Linked DNA regions of Homo sapiens: region 1 is linked to region 2. A link means that fine-mapping ties the variant in region 2 to the expression of a gene that starts in the linked region. Tissue or cell type: naive CD4 T cells. Region 2 holds a variant in brackets; the other region holds the start of a gene. All regions are shown on one strand. Distances are between the middles of the regions.

Region 1 (6,798 bases), 75 kb before region 2:
AAATAACATTTGGCAGGTCAACTCATAGAAATGAAGAAAAGCTTTTGTTTCTTCAGTGGATGAGTATCTCTAGGGTTGTGAAACTACTAAATTTCTTTGCATATAAAAATCACAATAAAGCATCACATTTTATTATTGTAATTAATACAATAAAAAACTAAAGCTTTATAATCTCCACTACTACAGAGCTTTCTGCGCAATCTTAAAATTACATTCCTCTTTCAGATCCCATTTACCTTTTTCACTGTAGCATCTCCTTCAACGCCCTTCTTAGCATTCTGATCCCATCCCAAGTTCCAAAAGGTTAAAAGTCCTGTGCATTACGTTCAGGACCGCAATGTACTTAGAGAAGCTCAATATTTTGAATGAATTAACGAATACTAAACTGTCCTTCCTTCCCTCATCCAGTTAGAATGGTATGTTACATTTATTCCCCACTCAAAAATTCTCAGATGTAGGGAGGAAGATTAAAAAGAAAACTCCCACCTTATGGAAAGAAAGTGGCAGGAAATTAAATGAGATACTATGTAATCTTAATAGACAAACTGGTTCTATCCTCTTTCCCTTTTTTGTTTCCACAAATTTGCTTCTGCTTAAGTGACAAGACTCTCGCAGACAAGTCAATAAATCAGGTCCCCATCCTGCTTTACCTATTCAACATCTCTAGCTCTCTGTAGGATGGTGAAGGAGAAAAGGGTAGAGAAAATTGGGCAAATTCTATAATACCATTTGGTACTATATATTTCATCTTAAATCAGGTTTTAGTTCAACATCTGTGTATTGCCATGCAAGAAATAACTCCCAGTCCGGGCGCGGTGGCTCACGCCGGTAATCCCAGCACTTTGGGAGGTCAAGGCGGGTGGATCACGAGGTCAAAAGTTAAAGACCAACCTGGCCAAGATGGTGAAACCCCGTATCTACTAAAAATACAAAAAAATTAGCCGGGGGTGGTGGCGAGCGCCTGTAATCTCAGCTACTCGGGAGGCTGAGGCAGAGAATTGCTTGAACCTGGGAGGCGGAGGTTGCAGTGAGCCGAGATCGCGCCACTGCACTCCAGCCTGGGCGACAGAGTGAGACTCGGTCTCAAAAAAAAAAGAAAGAACTCCCTAACTCTTCTGCAGTAGCAATGAATATATTTGATACTAAAATGTTTTCATTTTCCTAGTGGGACATTTACTGTCAAATGAATGTCCTTAACTTCAATTTACAGTAGTTACCCAAAAAAGGCTATCTTCACTGACTATGCATACCTAGAAAAGCACATCATCCTACTCACCGACCTTAACAACATCATCTTTCGGCCCTAATTAACAATGTGTTTGTAGGTTTGCACACGCACACCCATCAAACGAAGGACAAGTGTTCTTTTATACCCTATGTATGTGATACAATGGGCTGTAGTCGAAAAAGATTCCTCATTTTGGAAAGAAGTCATAACTTTATGTAGTAGTCTCCTGTCTCAAGATCGCTTGACACAGCTAATCTTACATCCGTCTGAAAGAAGCGGGGGCGGGGGTGGGGGACGGAAGTGACAGTTTCCTCTTTTTTTTTTTTTTTTTAATTTTATAGAGACAGTGGCTCGCCATATTGCCAAGGCTGGCCTCGAACTCCTGGGCTCAAGCAATCCTTCCGCCTCGACATCCCAAAGTGCTGAGGTAACAGGCGTAAGCCACTGCGCCCGGCCTCCTATTTTTCATCAAATAAAATACAACCGTTCAGAGCAGCATGCTCAGCAACCACGAGGACCAGTCCCAGCGCATCCAAGGTGCCGGGAGGGAAAGGAACAGAACTCCCCCAGGTAAGCCGGTTTCCCCACGCCAAGGCGCAGTCGCTCACCACCCAAATCGTCGCTGGGGAGAGACCCACCCGGCGACTGCGCGCTTCGCACTCGAGTCTGCGTTAGGAAGCCTCTGACCCTTTCCCGGGCCCCTGCGCGTGGAAGCCTCGGACACAACTCGGAGAACCAGCGAACCCCGGCAGCACAGAATTCGAACCGCCGCGGGAGCCGTTGGGACGCGCCTACCCGGTCACTGCCCCGCCCCGGCGCAGACTGCGTGAGGCGCCGCCGAAGGCGCGGGGCTTGCCGGGGATCGTGGTCGGCGAGCGCGCCCGAGCCCACTAGCGGAGCCCGCCCGGGACTACATTTCCCACAATTACCGCCATGATGCCCATTGGTGGGGGAAGCCATGGGAACCGGAGGCCGTCAGGGGGAGAGGCGGGCGGCGCTCACGCCTGGCCTGAGGGGGCCGAGACTGAGGCGGTTGCGGAATAGGACTGCTAGCCCCGCCCAGAGTCCCTACCCTTTGGAGAACTGCGCTTCTCTTTCGGAGGGAGTGTTCGCCGCCGCCGCGGCCGCCACCTGGAGTTTCTTCAGACTCCAGATTTCCCTGTCAACCACGAGGAGTCCAGAGAGGAAACGCGGAGCGGAGACAACAGTACCTGACGCCTCTTTCAGCCCGGGATCGCCCCAGCAGGGATGGGCGACAAGATCTGGCTGCCCTTCCCCGTGCTCCTTCTGGCCGCTCTGCCTCCGGTGCTGCTGCCTGGGGCGGCCGGCTTCACACCTTCCCTCGATAGCGACTTCACCTTTACCCTTCCCGCCGGCCAGAAGGAGTGCTTCTACCAGCCCATGCCCCTGAAGGCCTCGCTGGAGATCGAGTACCAAGTAAGTGCGGAGGATAAACCAGCCTCCTTCCTTTAACCCAGCTGCACTGCGTTGTCGCCTCTCACCCGTTTAGAAACTTCTGGTGGACGGCCCTGGTGGTGAAGAGGCGAGGGCCGTTCAGGAAGCCAGCCCGCTCCGCGCAGGCGCGCGAGGCGAGGCGAGGCTCTCGCTGGGGCCGGGGACCCAGAACTTAGGCTGGACCTGGAATTGATGACTACCCGCCTTCTCCCCTTTCCTCCGGTGGGAAGGAGGCCAGAACTGGTGATGTCGCTGGCTTTTCTCTTTGTTTCCTAATTCGCCCACTGCTTTTCTTAGCCACTACACGCTCTCATACTGAGAATTTCACAATGCAGAACTGATACACGTTCTCCTTCATCATTGGACAAGGTGATGACACTTGTTTGAATCACCCCCACCCCTTTCACACAGTTCAGATGTTACAAATCACTGTCTTTGCTTCAGTTAAGGGTTTTTGGATTATGATCGTGTAATTGGCATTAAGCCCGATTTTGAAATTTTTTGGAAGACGCTGTTGCTATATTTAATGATACATTTCCGTTTAAGTTATATATCCATTATTTTCAAAAGATCAAATCGTATATTAAAACTTTATAACCTTTCTTTTCATTTTTTCATTGAGCATTGTAAGCATTTCCCTCGTGTCATTGTTTTTTTTTTTTTTTTTTGAGACGGAGTCTCGCTTTGTTGCTCAAGCTAGAGTTGGAGTGCAGTGGCGCTATCTCGGCTCATTGCAACCTCCGCCTCCCGGGTTCAAGCGATTCTCCTGCCTCAGCCTTCCGAGTAGCTGAGATTACAGACGTGCGCCACCATGCCCAGCTAATTTTTGTATTTTTAGTAGAGACGGGGTTTCACCATGTTGGCCAGGCTGGTCTCGAACTCCCGACCTCAGGCGATCCACCCGCCTCGGCCTCCCAAAGTGCTGGGATTACAGGCGTGAGCCACCATGCCTAGCATGTTTTCTTTTTAGTATCTGCATAATATTCTTGCTGGGAATTACCTTATTTTATGTAGTCATGGTGGTAGGGGGTAATTTCTTAGAAGAAATCTTGTTCGTTCCACAGCAAATTCCGATGTTTTCAGGTAGCAGTACAGGGGGGAAAGAAAAGGCATTGATGTGTTTCATCTTTCAGTTTTTTAGAAGTTAATTATAATCATCAAATGTTAATTTTTTAAGTTGATGTAGAGAATTGTTTTTAAATACCAGGTACTGTCACATACAGAGCAAAATAAAAAGTTGTAGAATTTTTTATACGATGGAACTTTAGGATTAAGTTGTATATAGATACACACGATAAGCACAGAGAATAAAATATCTAAAATCACATAGTGAGCAAAACTGAGGCTAAAACTCAGTGTTTCTTGATTTCCAGTAAAGTTCAAAAGTTCAACATTTACTGAACAGTTAACACGTGCCAGGAATTGTGCATGGAGGTGGGGGAGACGGAGGGGGAGCTGGGTTGTGCGGGATGTAGGTAAAAGAGAAAGAAAGAATCCCTCTTCTCAAAGAGCTTAATAAAGGTTACTGGCTCATAAACAGGTAATTTCAATAAAGGATGGCTAAGTACCAGTAGAGGAGGGTCACTTCTAAGGGTTTCAGAAGAGGATTCCTGGAGAAAATAAAATTTAATCCAGAAAGATGCTTAATTGAGACGAAAATGCCAGGAACAAGGGGCATTTCAGAAAAGCGAACAAAAAGATCCATAGTTCTTAAAATACATAGTGTAAGTGGGGATGGTTAGTGTGTAGTGGACACTACAAGTACTGAGTTTGTATTAGACTTTAAGACATATAAAGTCTAGGGTGGGAGTAGCAGAAAAGGACATCGGAGAGGCCAGAAGGCTGGGGTCATTAAGCATGAATCATAGCCTTGTTTGCCGTGCTGAGTAGGTTTTCCTTAATTTTGTACAAGTCCATTTAAGATTTAAGCAGATCACTGGATGCAGTGTGGAAAATGGATTTAAGGAGAGCAAAATTAGAGTCAAGGAAACTAACTAGAGGGCTAGTGAAATAGTCTAGATAAGAAAACAATTTGTATTAATAAAAAAATCTTCAGTATTTACACACATATTAGGGAAGATATCTATTTTAACTACTGTCCTCTTATAGTTAAGAGCACCAGCTCTTAACCTTAGCCTGGGTTCAAATCTTGACTCTGCCTACTTAAAACTTATGTGATCTTCTCACTTGTAAAATAGAGATAATAATTGTAACTACATCATAGAGTTGATTTGAAAAAGCATGAGTTAATAAATGCTCATATTCAGTGTAAAGTAGTCTATTAAAAAATGCTCATAGATCATCCCTGACACATAGTAAATAATCAATGAATGTTAATTTTACATTTATACCTCTATAGTTATGTAGCTGGCTTGGTTTAGCTTTATTCTTTACATCTTTAGTCACTCTTAAAGGGACTGTTCCTTTTTTTTTTTTTTTTTTTTTTTTTTTGAGACAGAGTCTCCCTCTGTCACTCTGTTACCCAGGCTGGAGTGCAGTGGCGCGACCTTGGCCCACAGCAACCTTCATCTCCCGAGTTCAAGTGATTCTCCCGCCTCAGCTTCCCGAGTAGCTGGATTACAGGCATGTGCCACCACACCCAGCTAATTTTTGTATTTTTAGTAGAGACGGGGTTTCACTATGTTGGCCAGACTGGTCCCAAACTCCTGATCTCAAGTGATCTGCCAGCCTCAGCCTCCAAAGTGCTGGGATTATAGGTGTGAGCCACCGCGCCCGGCTGGGACTATTCCTTTAAAACATTCTCCCTAAACAATTTGTTTTGATTAAGGAAAGAGGTAAAATCATTTGTCTGTAATCCTAGACAGTGTTGGTGAGATGTGTAGGGTAACTATCATCTTCCACCCTGTTTGTATTTCCCAACTTGTTTAATTTCCCAGTAACTACATCCTACTAATTTTTGTCTTAAAGTTAGTTTTTAAAATTTTATAGAACAATCTAGTTTTGTCCTTGGTTACTTATTGAAAATTTTACTAATTTCTTACTTTTTAGGTTTTAGGAGAATACTTTTTGGATAATTGACTAGCCTCACATTATATTGATAGAGGTTCTTGAAAACTTTAATGCCAATTCATGTATCTTATGACTAAAATAGATAATCCATTTAGAAATTTAAGTCATTCTTGCGTGCTTGATATGTGTCAGCACTATCCAAGTTGCTAGGGATACAATGGTGAGTGAAAATATCAGCTAGGTGCAGTGGCTCACACCTGTAATCCCAACAGTTTGGGAGGCCAAGGTGGGAGGATCACTCAAGCACAGGCGTTTCACACCAGCCTGGACAACATAGCAAGACCCCATCTCTACCAAAAATAAAGTTAGCCAGGCATGGTAGCACACACTTGTGGTTCCAGCTACTTGGGAGGCTGAGGTGGGAGGATCACTTGAGCCCAGGAGGTTGAGGCTATGGTGAGCTGTGATCACACCACTGTACTCCAGCCTCGGTGACAAGAGCGAGACCCTGCCTCAAAAAAATATATATATATATGTTTGTGTGTGTGTGTGTGTGTATAGTCTGTGCCCTCATACAATCAAGTATTAATTAATCAAATTATTACACAAATACATGTCAAAATATTTACTAGGGGTAATGAAGGTAAGTTCATAAGACTATGAGTGGGCTCAGTAGGAGGACTTCATTTTATCTGGAAATTGAAAGACATCCAGAAGTAGAGTTAAGATCTACAGAATTATCAGACTTTCACTAGGCATAATGGAATGAGTGGTACGAGACAATGGGTAAAAAAGAACAACAACGTGCCAAGATACTAAGGAAGAAGAGAGAAAGATACCTTTGAGGTCCTGAAAGATAGGATACAGAGAGAGAAAAGTGGTACAAGTCTACTTTAGAGAAGTCAGTAGCAACAGCAACCAAATCATTGTGGGCTTTTAGGTCCTTGTTAAGGATATGGGTCTTTTGCAGAGACCAGTAATACGCCACTGAATAGTTATAAGCAGGTTAACTCGATCTGTGTTTTTTAAAAGATCGTTTTGGCCACAAGGTATTGAGCCTCTCTGTACCAGTTTCTATACTTTAACAGTAATCACCTGCTCCCCACTATATATTATTGTGAAGAATAAATATGCTAATACATGTA
Region 2 (8,156 bases):
ATATTCAAAGTAAGCAGGCTGCAGGGAGTGGGTGCTGTCACCAGAGAATCTTATATCCAGCAAAACTGTCTTTCAAAAATGAAGGTGAAATACAAACTCCCAGATAAACAAAAACTGAATTTGTTATTAGCAGAGACATCTTACAATGAATACTACTACGATTGAAAGTAAGTAAACCCAGAAGGAAATTCAAATACATGTACATACACATACACACACACACACACAAAGAATACCAACAAAAGTAATTATAAAAGACAGCATAAATGCATATTCCCTCCAAAGCAAGTATATAAAACAATATGTACATAATTGTATTGTTAGACCCATAATATATAGAAATGTAATATATTTGGCAATAATAGCATAAAGGAAGTATGTAGGAGCAAAACTGTTTCAACTGTTTCAAAGAAATGACACAGGCCAGGTGCAGCATGGCTGACGCCTGTAATCCCAGCACTTTGGGAGGCTGAGGCAGGAGGACCCCGAATTCAAGAGTAGCCTGGGCAACAAAGGGAGAATGTCTCTAAAAAAATTAAAAAATAAAAATTAGCCGGGCATTGTGGCACGTGCCTGTGGTCCCAGCTACTCAGGAGTCTGGGGTGGGAGGACTATATGAGGCCAGGAGGTCGAGACTGCAGTGAGCTGTGATTGTGCCACTGCACTCCAGCCTGAGCAACAGAGAGAGAACCTGTCAAAAGAAAAGAAGAAAAGAAAAGAGAAAAATGGAAGGAAGGACAGACACAAGATGCTAACTTGAATTCACAAGAACAAACGAAAAAAAAAATGGTAATTAAGGTCAATATAAAACGTAGATTGTCACTTCAAGAAAATACCTGCCTTATACAGAACTAAGTGGCTGTTTCAAGTAAAAATGGTGTTCCATGAAAAAGCTGCTAGTTCAGCTGGCAACTCAAACAATGGCACAAGTGCCTTATGCCATTTCTATTTTATCACACATATTAAAAACCTGGCCAGCACGGTGGCTCATGCCTGTAATTCCAGCATTTTGGAAGGCCGAGGCAGGTGGATCATTTGAGGCCAGGAGTTCAAGACAAGCCTGGCCAACATAGCAAAACCCCCCATCTCTACTAAAAATACAAAATTAGCCAGGCATGGTGGCGCGTGCCTGTAATCCCAGCTACTCGGGAGGCTGAGGCAGGAGAACCGCTTGAACCTGGGAGGCGGACGTTGCAATGAGCCAAGATTACACCACTGCACTCCAGCCTAGGCAACAGAGCAAAACTACATCTCAAAAACAAACAAACAAACAAAAAACATTCTTAAGTGAAATAAGGTTTGGGGGTACGTGTGTGTGTTTATATTTTTTACCGTTAGTACACAATGAAGAATACAAGTACAGTTTGATGCCGCTGCCTTGATTCATGCTAAGGCACAAAGCAATTTTATCTAACATTGTTTTTTCTGTGCCATAGTCAGCTGTGAGGAGAAGGCACTTTTGGTAGTATAATTAGAGGGGTTAAAAAGTTTAAATGTTTGACAAGATCAGTGCAAGAGAACAGAAGTAAAAATGCAGGAAGAATCACAATGAATTATCATCAGGGATGCTCAAGGAGAGGGTAAGAATCCTCTTTCTCCAGATTTTGAAACAATTTAACGGCTTCACAGTATGGGAATAACTCTATTAGCAATCAACTTTGAAAAAAGCTTTAAGGGGCAGGATGCGGTGGCTCACGCCTGTAATCCCAACACTTTGGGAGGCCGAGGTGGGCAGATCACCTGAGGCTGGGAGTTCAAGACCAGCCTGACCAACATGGAGAAAAAACCCGTCTCTACTAAAAATACAAAATTAGCCTGGTGTGGTGGCGTATGCCTGTCATCCCAGCTACCTGGCAGGCTGAGGCAGGAAAATGTCTTGAACCCAGGAGGTGGAGGTTGCAGTGAGCTAAGATCGCACCATTGCACTCCAGCCTGGGCAACAAAAGCAAAAGTCTGTCTCAAAAAAAAAAAAAAAAGGCTTTAAGTTCAGTGTTCACTTGAGGGATTTTGCATCCCTTCAGTTAAAAAAAAAAAATAGCCAAAGCCTGAACAATTAATCAATCATGGGTGAAAAATGACCTCAGTAGAATGCCATGGCAGGTCTGCGTTAAGACCTAGAATTCCAAAGTAGAAACTGTACAAAAATAAAAATTGCAAACATTCCCAGTTTCATATGCTTTGCTATTATTTCAATAAATTATCCCCTTCTTTCAGGATGGCAAGGTCTGTCTCTGTCTTACTCTCCACTGTACTACTCCTGCTGCATAGCACATCCTTAGGTCATAAGGTATCAAACATTTTTTTATTTTTCCATCTCCTAGTGTTTATGCCCTGCTTCTCCTAATATTTCTGGTGTGCTGTGTCTCAAATGAGACCTAACCTAATTATAGTTACCCTTGATTCCTTATGCCCCCTTCCCACCACCTCCTCATTTTTTCCCTTCCATTCACAGTCAAACCTCCAGGAAAAAATTACTGAGATTACCAAGTCCCTAACCCTACATTAAACATTCAACACATTCATGGCCGGGCATGGTGGCTCACGCCTGTAATTCCAGCACTTTGGGAGAACGGGTCGGGCAGATCACGAGGTCAGGAGTTTGAGACCAGCCTGGTCAACATGGCCAAACCACGTCTCTACTTAAAATACAAAAATTAGCCGGGCGTGATGGCTGGCACCTGTAATCCCAGCTACTCAGGAGGCTGAGGCAGGAGAACTGCTTGAACCCGGGAGGTGGAGGTTGCAGTGAGCCGAGACCGCAGCATTGCACTCCAGCCTGGGTGAAAAGAGCAAGACTCTGGTCTCAAAAAAAAAACACACACACACACAAACAACATTCAACATATTCATTCACAAATCATTTTTGGGTCCCTATTATGAGCCACATACTGTGCCAGGCAGTAGATATATAGAGGTAATTTAATACTCAGATCACTGCTTTAGAGATATTTTTGCAGATGAGATTTTACAGATCCCTTTTTACATGAGGAAACTACAACTGCAAAACAGATTATAACTTGATGAAGTTTATTATAGGATACAAACCAGAGCCAGCATTCAATAAATCTTCTCTCTGGGCACCCTCCCATTAGCATTCAACTATGCTTAAAAACTTGCAAGGATCTTGGGGATGGGGGGTAGAATAACTAAATTCTCTTGATTCTTTGTGCTCCGTTCCCACCACTTCCTACTCTTTCCTCCCATTTGCAAGCAAACCTCGGGGTAAAGTTATACACGCTTAATGTCTCCACTCCTATAGTCTCCTCCCCTTTTCAGTCTTCGGCCCACTTCAATATAACCCACTAACCTCCCCCCAAACAGGGAATGTCTGTCTCTTTTTTTTTTTTTTTTTTGAGACGGAGTCTCGCTCTGTCACCCAGGCTGGAGTGCAGTGGCGCTATCTCGGCTCACTGCAAGCTCCGCCTCCCAGGTTCACGCCATTCTCCTGCCTCAGCCTCCCGAGTAGCTGGGACTACAGGCGCCCGCCACTACACCCGGCTAACTTTTTGTATTTTTAGTAGAGACGGGGTTTCACCTTGGTCTCGATCTCCTGACCTCGTGATCTGCCTGCCTCGGCCTCCCAAAGTGCTGGGATTACAGGCGTGAGCCACCGCGCC[C/A]GGCCGAGAATGTCTGTCTCTTATTCACACTTGTATCCTCAATCTCTGCATAGGGCATGATACATAAACGGCAGAAAGATTATGCAGAATTTATATAGTTCAAGTCAAGAAACGCCTATATTTAAGGAGTTAATTTTTTTATCTAACCAATATTTAAAGAGTTTAACTTTTCATCTTTATCTACTTTTTTTTTTTTTTTTTTGAGATGGAGTCTTGCTCTGTCACCAGGCTGGAGTACAGTGGCACGATCCCAGCTCACTGCAACCTCCACCTCCTGGGTTCAAGCAATTCTTGTGCCTCAGCCTCCCGGATAGCTGGGATTACAGGTGCATGCCACCACGCCCAGCTAATTTTTGTATTTTTAGTAGAGACAAGGTTTCACCATGTTGGCCAGAATGGTCTTGATCTCCTGACCTTGTGATCCACCCGCCTCGGCCTCCCAAAGTGCTGGGATTACAGGCCTGAGCCACAGCGCCCGGGGTACATTTTTAATCTAATGTCTCTAAGCACAAATCATCTGTTTTGCTTTAAGTAAAAAATAGACTCTACTTTCATTCACATTTAAGACAAATACACATCAACCTTTTACCCACATAAACATAAATCCTATATAAAACTGCATTAATAGAGAGATCATTTGTACCAGGCATGGTGGCTCACACCTGTAATCCTAGCACTTTGGGAGGCTGAGGCAGGAGGATCACTTGAGCCTAGGAATTTGAGACCAGCCTGGGCAACACAGTGAGACCTTGTCTCTACAAAAAAAAAAAAAAAAAAGCTGGGTGTAGTGGCATACGCCTGTGGTCTCAGCTACTCAGGAGGCTGAGGTGGGAGGATCACTTGAGCCCAGGAGGTAGAGGCTTCAGTGAGCCATGACTTCACCACTGCACTCCAGCCTAGACAACCTGTAACAAAAACCAAAAAATACATACATAAATAACGTGTAAAAGCAGTATCTTCTTTTAAAATTTCTCTGCCCAAAAAAATCTTACAGAAAACAAAGCAAGAAAAGAGTAAATTACCCATAATGTCACAACTCAAACGTAAGTAGGATAAACATCGTTGCACATTTTCCTCCCCTAAGGGTTTTCCTCTATGCAGTTTCCCCCACCCCATTACTATCACTGATTACTTCCCTCTTTGCTAGAATGTGACCTTTATTAGAAGTCAAATTAATTTTTCTAATTTTAGAATTTATTACTTCCTTTCTGATTACAAAGGTAAACATGCTGATGTTAGAATAATATAGAAACATATAGTTAAAAATGAAAATGCTCCATGCAATCTCCTCCCATAAAAAAAGTTAATCTCCTGATTCTTATTTGTACTACATATTTATAATTCATATAAATGTTTTTAATAAAATATAGGACATTATATATATTATTCTATAAATTTTCTCACATAACAATGTATCTTGAACAATGTAATTTCCATCTGTTACGTAAATATAAAATAAAAGCACATAAAATAATCTTTTCATCAGCTGCTAAACTGCTTTCCAACCATTACCCAATGGAGGAACATTTAGGATGTTTCCAATGTTTTAACATAAGCAGTAATATAAACTTCATTCTTCTACATTCCCAACTACTATATAGGATAAATAATAAAGAGAATTAATATATATATAATAAAATACTACGTATATTTTTCCTTTTTATAATAGAAAATTACAAACGTAGACAAAACAAGTATAATGAACCATCAAGTGACACCCAGTTTCAATTATAATTTCCTTTTTTTTTTTGAGCTAGTCTCACTGTGTCACCCAGGCTGAAGTGCAGTGGTGCGATCTTGGCTCACTGCAACCTCTGCCTCCCGGGTTCAAGCAATTCTCCTGCCTCAGCCTCCCAAGTAGCTGAGACTACAGGCGCCCACCACCATGCCCGGCTAATTTTTTTCATATTTTTGCAAAGACAGGGTTTCACTATGTTGGCCAGGCTGGTCTTGAACTCCTGACCTCGTGATTTGCCCGCCTCGGCCTTCCAAAGTGCTGGGATTACAGGCGTGAGCCACCGTGCCTGGCCCATAAAATTTCATGGCTAAAATTATTTCATTTATATACCCATATCCCCCCATCCTCATATGTGTATTTTTAAATATCATAGGTATTATCAAATTATTCTCCCAAAAGGTACCAACTCACACTCTCACCACACCTTCACCAACGGGAAGAATTATCATTCTTTTGCTGTTTGACAACACACACTCTATTTCTATCTACAACTCTATTAGTAGTAGTAAAAAAGCATGTTTCTCATAGGTTTGTTAACAATTTTTTTTTTGAGACAGGGTCTCTCTCTGTCACCCAGGCTGAAGTGCAGTGGTGCAATCATGGGTCACTGCAGCCTCAATCTCCCGGGCTCAAGGGATCCTCCCACTTCAGCCTCCCAAGCAGCTGGGACTACAGGCACACACCATGCCACCACGCCCACCTGATTTTTTAAAAATAATTTTTAGTAGGAATGGGAGCAGGTCTCAAACTCCTGAGCTCAAGTAATCCCTCCGCTTTGGCCTCCCAAAGTGCTGGGATTATAAGCATGAGCCACCACGCCCAGCCTATTAACAATTTCTAAGTCTTCTGGAAACTGCAGTTGATGTTCTTTGCCCATTTTTAAATGAAATGTTAATCACTGTCATGATAATTTTCAAGAGCATCTTATATGTTATAACCCTTTCTTATACATATTGCAAACATTCTTCTGAGTTCATATACTAAAGTGCCATGAGAAACAGACTTTTTGATTGGGGAATCAGTACTCCTTTTGGGTACTCAGTTGACTCTGGTCAGTAGCTACAAAGCTATATCCCTCATCTCACCTCATCTCAGATTCAAACTGCCTCTCCTGATTAAGCAGCCAGGGATTGAGGGGAGGGAGAAAGAGGTAGTTGTTATACAACGGGCATATAGTTTCAGTTTAACAAGGTAAAAAAGTGTTATGGAGACGGCTCAATGTATTTAATATCAGTGAACTGTACACTGAAAATTGGTTAAGACGGGCCAGGCATTGTGGCTCACACCTGTAACTTCAGCTCTTTGGGAGGCCAAGGCGGGAGGAGTGCTTGAGGCCAGGAGTTCAAGACCAGCCTAAGCAACACAAGATCCAGGCTCTACAAAATATTTCTTTGAAATCAGCCAGACATAGTGGGATGTGCCTATAGTCCCAGCTACTTAGGAAGCTGAGATGGGAGAATTGCGTGAGCCTGGGAGGTCGAGGCTGCAGTGAGCTGTGACTGCACCACTGCATTCCAGCCTGGGTAACAGGGAGACCCTGTCTCAAAAAAAAAAAAAAAAAAAAAAAAAAAAACCAGCCTGAGCAACATGGCAAGACCACATTCCTACAGAAAATTTTTAAAAAATTTGCCAAGTGTGATGGCACATAGCTGCAGGATCACTTGAGCTCAGGAGTTCGAGACTGCAGTGAGCTGGAATCACACCACTGCACTCCAGCCTGGGAAACAGAGTGAGACCTTATCTCCTTTTAAAAAAAAAAAAAAAAAAAAAAAAAAGGTTAAGATAGTAAATTTTGTTACATGTATTTTAACTCAATAAAAAGATTGGGAGAGAGGGCTCATAGTCACTACCACTGGATCACTGCTAGTCATATACATCTTGAAAGAGATTGCCTGGACAAATAAGTTTCTTCCCTTGAGACCAAGTGTTCAAGCCAGTAACTCTTTCTTGGTTTACTACCCCAGAATAAGTAAGACCCTGATTCAAGAAGTTGAAAACTGGATGTTTAATTCAGAAATAGTGTGGTTTAGGGAAAATGGATTAATTCTTCCCAATCCATTCCTCAATCTGTTCTCCTAGTGAACTAAATAAAGAACTATCTCAATTCTTAGTTGCCATCTTTCCCATGCCCACAATTTCTTCCCTTCCCTGGGAAAAGTAGTAAATATGTGGGTTAATAGCATGTGAAGGATATAATATAACCTAAGAAAAGTGCTATTTTTGGTGAAAACTTTCATACAGATATAGTCAAATTCATGAGGCCAAACAGGGCCAAAGTAAGGCCCAGGTATAAGGGAAGCAACAGGTAATCTGCTTAAGCTTGGCACTGCATTAAAGCTATGAAGAAGGAATTCTCTTTTATCTCTTGAGACAGGTATGTAAAATGAAGCCTGAGACTCGTTGCCTTCTTTCTGGTTAAGGTTTCCCTGAAAGTAGAATGTCAAAGAGAACCAGGGTTGAACCTAAAGGACAGAAAGCATAAAGCAAGCAGCTTAAAGGCCAGCTCTACTCCTTAGTTTTAGAAACAATACAAACAGCTGGGGGTGGTGGCTCACGGCTGTAATCCCAGCACTTTGGGAGGCCGAGGCGGGCAGATCATGAGGTCAGGAGAGCAAGACCATCTTGGCTAACACACAGTGAAACTCCGTCTCTACTAAAAATACTAAAAAATTAGCCAGGCATGGTGGCAGGTGCCTGTAGTCCCAGCTACTCAGGAGGCTGAGGCAGGAGAATGGCGTGAACCTGGGAGGCGGAGGTTGCAGTGAGCGGAGATCATGCCACTGCACTCCAGCCTGGGCGAC

What was found. PIP is the estimated chance that this variant, and not a neighbour inherited with it, causes the effect.
Region 1: CCDC18 starts here. The variant in region 2 is fine-mapped to the expression of CCDC18 in naive CD4 T cells (Schmiedel 2018, PIP 0.95).

The regions. Positions count from the first base shown.
Region 1 is chr1:93,175,921-93,182,718 of GRCh38, reverse strand. It overlaps CCDC18 (coiled-coil domain containing 18), which reads right to left and starts at 1,995. Exons shown (of 29, transcript NM_001378204.1): 1 at 1,867-1,995. TMED5 (transmembrane p24 trafficking protein 5) reads left to right here and starts at 2,306. Exons shown (of 4, transcript NM_016040.5): 1 at 2,306-2,665. The coding sequence starts at 2,477. RefSeq lists enhancers at 1,696-1,905, 2,776-2,925 and a silencer at 1,966-2,245.
Region 2 is chr1:93,100,341-93,108,496 of GRCh38, reverse strand. All of the region lies in intron 1 of MTF2 (metal response element binding transcription factor 2), which reads right to left. Among named protein-coding and RNA genes, the nearest start is that of MTF2, 25 kb to the right of the region's middle. The variant C/A (reference allele first, on the strand shown) is at 3,618.